Linked DNA regions of Homo sapiens: region 1 is linked to region 2. Evidence: fine-mapped expression QTL. A gene starts in region 2. The other region holds a variant in brackets. All regions are shown on one strand. Distances are from middle to middle. Region 1 overlaps MORF4L1 (mortality factor 4 like 1). Region 2 holds the start of MORF4L1 (mortality factor 4 like 1).

The links. PIP is the estimated chance that this variant, and not a neighbour inherited with it, causes the effect. A credible set is the group of variants that fine-mapping cannot tell apart.
Region 1: its variant is the best candidate, but not a certain one, in a credible set for the expression of MORF4L1 in whole blood (TOPMed, PIP 0.71).

What each region holds. Positions count from the first base shown.
Region 1 is chr15:78,896,690-78,899,463 of GRCh38, reverse strand. MORF4L1 (mortality factor 4 like 1) reads right to left here. Exons shown (of 12, transcript NM_006791.4): 12 at 1,325-2,481. The coding sequence ends at 2,397. It also overlaps the pseudogene RNU6-415P. Among named protein-coding and RNA genes, the nearest start is that of MORF4L1, 25 kb to the right of the region's middle. The variant C/T (reference allele first, on the strand shown) is at 1,305.
Region 2 is chr15:78,871,582-78,874,355 of GRCh38, reverse strand. It overlaps MORF4L1 (mortality factor 4 like 1), which reads right to left and starts at 1,466. Exons shown (of 12, transcript NM_006791.4): 1 at 1,299-1,466. The coding sequence starts at 1,338. RefSeq lists enhancers at 615-854, 248-879 and silencers at 965-1,024, 1,435-1,694.

The sequences.
Region 1 (2,774 bases), 25 kb before region 2:
ATTTGTAGAAGCCGGGTGCAGTGGCTCATGCCTGTAATCCCAGCACTTTGGGAGGCCGAAGCAGGCAGATCACGAGGTCAGGAGATCGAGACCATTCTAGCTAACGTGGCGAAACCCCATCTCTACTAAAAATACAAACAATTAGCCAGGCATGGTGGCGGGTGCCTGTAGTCCCAGCTACTCGGGAGGCTGAGTCTGGAGAATGGCATGAACCCAGGACGCGGAGCTTGCAGTGAGCCGAGATCACACCACTGCACTCCAGCCTGGATGACAGAGAGAGACTCTGCCTCAAAAAAAAAAAAAAAAATTATTTGTAGAGACAAGGTCTCTTCCCTACGTTACCCACGCTACTTTCAAACTCCTGGGCTCAAGTAATCCTCCCACCTCAGCCCCAAAGTGCTGAGATTACAGATTACAGGTGTGAGCCACCACGCTCGGCAAGAAAATCTTTAAATACCTAACCAGTAACACTAATGTTCAAGGGACCATGAGTACACATTAAAAAAAAAAATCACATCTAGGGCTCATTTTGTTAGCAAAAATATTAAAAATTCAAACAATCAAGATTAGCATGGCCCCTGTGCCAAGAATGACACGTAAATTCTTGAAGTGTTTCATTTTTTAAGTCACATCTAGATAAACAAGAACTTTCAACAGCTGAAAGACCCCAGGCAACAACAATCCCTATTTGTTAGAAATCCAACTAAATCAGTACAGTTGTGACAAAAAGGGTAAAGAAAAAGAGAACAAGTAAGCCGAATGAAGGAGGCGGCAGGAAGACAACTATGGGTAGAAGCAGTTCCCTTCAAACAACCCAAGCAAATCCTGCTTCTTTGGAACTTACTCCTATTTCCCTCCTGCACTCATTATCCCTCTTGTATTGCTGCTGTAACTCTCGCCATCTGAACTTATCTGCTGCTTTGCATTTTAATTGTTTTCTGAGGGTTTTTTTTTTTTTTTTTTTGAGACAGAGTTTCACTCTTGTTGCCCAGGCTGGAGTGCAATGGCACAATCTTGGCTCACTGCAACCTCTGCCTCCTGAGTTCAAGCAATTCTCCTGCCTCAGCCTCGTGAGTCGCTGGGATTACAGGCGTGCGCCACAACGCCCAGCTAATATTTGTATTTTTAGTAGAGATGGGGTTTCTCCATGTTCATCAGGCTGGTGTCGAACTCCTGACCTCAGGTGATCCGCCCGCCTCAGCCTCCCAAAGTGCTGGGATTACAAGCGTGAGCCACTGCACCCAGACGCATTTTAATTCTTAACGTCTGCCATCCTCTACCCAAGTACAGACCACTTTAGTGTC[C/T]CTATCAAAGGGGAGAAACGTTGCCCTTTACAACTTTTGGGTTATTTTAATACTGTGTTGTCTATTGACATTTTTGGCTCATGTTTCTAGAGTAAACCCACAAAAGTAAACAATTATAGACAGAAAAAAGCTGACCATAATTTTACACAGGTGAAAATGCCCTTAATTAATGCTCAGAGTAAGTAATAATTTAGGGAAAATAAAAAAAACAGTCATGTAAACTTCTAACTTTTTAGCTAAGACTCAAGACAGCAAACTGCCAAAGCTGCTATGGATTAGCGCTACGTACCAAAGCTAAAGCGTCTCATTCCATAAAGGCCATACCAGAAAACAAAGCACGCACCTGAAAAACCACTGTCTAAATACAAGAAGGAATACACAAATATACAATGGTTTTTGTAAGGCATCAACACAAGCACATTGTTCTTTGAAATTTAAAGAAAAAATTTATTGAAGATCTGAAAAACAATTCCTAAAAGATTGACTTTTCCAGAAAACTAGCTACACAATGCATTGCGTCTATCATGTTAAAACGTGCATTAGACACAAATACAAAAACCATGAAACAAGCCACCATTCTTCAACAATTTGAGCCAAGATAAAATGCCTAAGTAACAACATGGATGACTTGCAAAGGATGGGCTCTTTACTTTAAGCACCATAAAAAAAAACAAAAGCACAAATGGATGAGTGTGTTCAGTTATATACACTGAATTGAACCTTTGGCACTAGGAATCAGAGCATTTTGTCATATAGCATTAACATGTATTATAAAAGTGCGTAGTGTCAAAGGAATAGAACCACCAGCATTCAAAAGCAGCTTTGTCAACTAGGCAATAAAACACTCTACAGCATATCCCTCTGTTGTCCATCATTGAAAACACTGGCAGCAATTTTGAAATGAAAAAAAAAAAGAAAGAAGAAAAAAGGAGCTATTACCCCCTTTTATTTTTTCTCTGTTTAAAATCAAACAGAAAACAAACATCAATTGTTATACACTAACATCTTCAAAGCACATCGTTTGTACAAGAGATAGACTAAGAACAAAAATGTGTTTACGGAGATCCAAACATAAGTGAGTGAGAGTGCCTCTCACACAGCTTTCCGATGGTACTCAGGAGGAGCCACTTCATAATCGCTGGCACTGAACAAAGTTGCAGAATTCTTTGCCAGGTACCTAAAAATAAAATATTCATTACAAAAATTTTTAAAGGTCATTATCTTGATCCAAATCTCTTCCTATATATTATATACATAAGCCACAGAAAACACTTTCCTAAAATACATTAAACCAGACATTCTCTCACAGTAAAACCACACATAATGACAATTCAGGTAAATAAATAAGGTTATACAATGAACAACACTATACATATACAAAGGAATGAACTCTGGAGTTACTCCCCTATTTCTAAACAGCAAAGAACAGTTATGTCTGCAGAATACCAACTTGGGAGCTTGAACCATCTT
Region 2 (2,774 bases):
CTAAAACCTCCTTAAATATTCCATAAACTTAAAATACGCAGTACTACGGTTTGAGGTTTACGGCTCTAAAAGGAATTCTAATGCAAGTCTAAAAACCCCTAGAACAAAAATCGTACGCATGTAGACATCGTATTTACGGTAACTAGCATAAATTTCCATAGCAATGAAAAGGAATGTTAAAGTGTTCCTCCTTTCTCAACAGGACTTTACTTCCTTTTTAGCTATTAGACCTCCACCTTATTATACGTTAACTGAAGCGTTGTGAAAATTTAAAGAGCTGCCTTCCACTGGGAGTCAGTCTAACCTTACCCAAAACTCATGTCAATCGAAAACCAATTAATAAAAAGAAATTCAACTTTCAAGTCATTGTTAAACACTGCAACTAATCAAACAATTACTGCATTTAAAAAATGACGTCGAGGCAATGGGACTTACAAATGCAAACGGCGTCAACACTGCATTCAGATCATTTTTATTTACTTTTTACGAGCAACTGCAAAGCGAGAGCTCACTCACATTACCATAGGATCTCGGCACTGCGCCCAAGAATAGCAGAGTGATGCCTCCAGGCAACACAAAGCGGAGGAAAACGCTCATCTCACTTTTTTTTTTCTGTCCCCACCCACCACTCTGTGGTATGCGGAGGGCCCCGGCAACCTTCTGGTCGTCGTGGAAGGGGGCGCTGCATCTGCCCGTAAGCTGTGCCTCCATACGGGACCGAGACGCCGGCGGCCATGATGGCGCCGCCATCTTGCAACGGCCATTTTACAACGCACTTCTCCCGCCCCGTGGCGCCAAACCCACCCCCATCCGCAGCTGAGTTGCCACCGAACGCAACCACCCCGGGGCTCCAGGAAGCACCGAAAAACCCGTCGTAGCTGCCCAAGCGGCCGGGCGCGCCGCAGGACCGCCCGAAACAGCCACCGCCCCTCCCCCCCCGCCGCCACATCACTTCCCCTAACCGCCGCCATGGCGCTCCCGTCGCCTCCCTACAATAGGCTGCTCTCTCCGCGCCCTCTTCCTCAGAACAATAACAAACACTTGACGAGGGTGTGCCACGCGCCAAACGCTCTCTCTCCCACTCTAACGCCTGCGCAGCACTCTCGCTTCACAAAGCGCTTTCTCACAATGACGCACCGGAATTGCCATCCGCAATGCGCTTTCCCCGCACAAAGCACTGACCGCCGCCTTCTCAGGGCGCAGCCCGCGCCGCCCCCGGCCCTCAAGCCTCAATCACCTCGAGCCCGCCTCTATCTCCTGCGCCGTTAGGTGCCTTTTTCCCAAAGGCGCACACTCACCCTCCTGGAATTTAGGCTTCGGGTCCTGCTTCGGCGCCATTTATAAGTGATTCGCCGCCTCCTCCTTCTCCCACCACCCCCGACTACCGCCCCCTACTCTCTACCCCACCCAACTCCGCGTCAGACGCGCCGTCAGGCACTGCCAGCTCTACATCCTGGGCCGGATTTGCCAGCGCCCGCAGACCTCACAGCACCGCGACCCGCGCAGCCGCTGCTCCAGCCAACGACAGCCCGCCGCGCACGCGCCCCTGCGCCCGCGCCGCCCCAGGGCACGCCGGGACTGGTAGTTCGGAGTCGGTGGAGGCGCCCCCCCCCCCCCCCCGGGTGGGGGAGGGGCCGGCTACCCTACCCCACCCCACCCCCGCTTCTCTCTCCATGCCCCCGGCTGCTGCGGGTTGGTAAAGCGGGGATTTGATTTCGTGGGAGGTTAAGGCGGAGCTGGCGATGGGGGAGAGTGGGGGTGGTGAGCCACCAGTGATAATAGAATGGGAAAGGCCCAGTTGCGACGTCCCTTGGGCAAATAAGCCCCCGTTGATGTTGAAGTAGTCGGAGAGAATAGGGCTGGCTCGGAAACCTACATTCAATAGCATTCCGCTAGTTTTTGCATAGAAAGGCTTTAGGATCAGCAAGAGGGTGGGAACTGGGGTCCGCTTCTGGAAGCTTCGTTGTTTAGCAACCCCACTGCGGAGCCTATTTGGTGGGATTGATAGCCATTTGTTGGCTCCTAGGTCTACCTCCTCTTCTCCAGCCCAGCCTTGCGGAAATGAGGATGATGACGTGGGAAACACTAGTCACGCTTTAGCTTTTTGAGATAATGGAGCTCTGCTTTCTGAAAAAGGCTAGTGTGAATATGTCAACGTCTGTATTCCGTACCTGCCCTGTTTGTGCTTCTTGTCACTCTAAACAAACGGATTTCTTCAATATTATACCTTTTTTTTTTTTTCTGAGATGGAGTGTCGCTCCGTTGCCCAGACTGGAGTGCAGTGGCGCGATCTCTGCTTACTGCAGCCTTCGCCTCCCAGGTTCAATCGATTCTCCTGCCTCAGCCTCCGGAGTAGCTGGGATTACAGGCATGTGCCACCACGCCCAGCTAATTTTTGTATTTTTAGTAGATACTGGGTTTCACCATGTTGGCCAGGCTGGTCTGGAACTCCTGACCTCGTGATCCGCCCGGTTTGGCCTTCCAAAGTTCTGGGATTACAGGCGTGAGCCACCGTGCCTGGCCTAAACAAACGGATTTATGTCGTTCCCTGTTCAAAAACAACTTTGTTGGCTAAGCTGCAAAATAGCACCATTTCCGTCAGTTTATTGTGAGAATTACATATACGGGCTTAGCGCGGTACCCAACAATGAATAAGTGCTCAATGAACTTTAGACGATAAATCTCAAAGTCCTTAGCCTGGTATTTAAATCCTTCCACAAACAGCCCTTAGCCTACCTGCATCCCCTATGTAAACCTTTATCCTCCTACGCAAA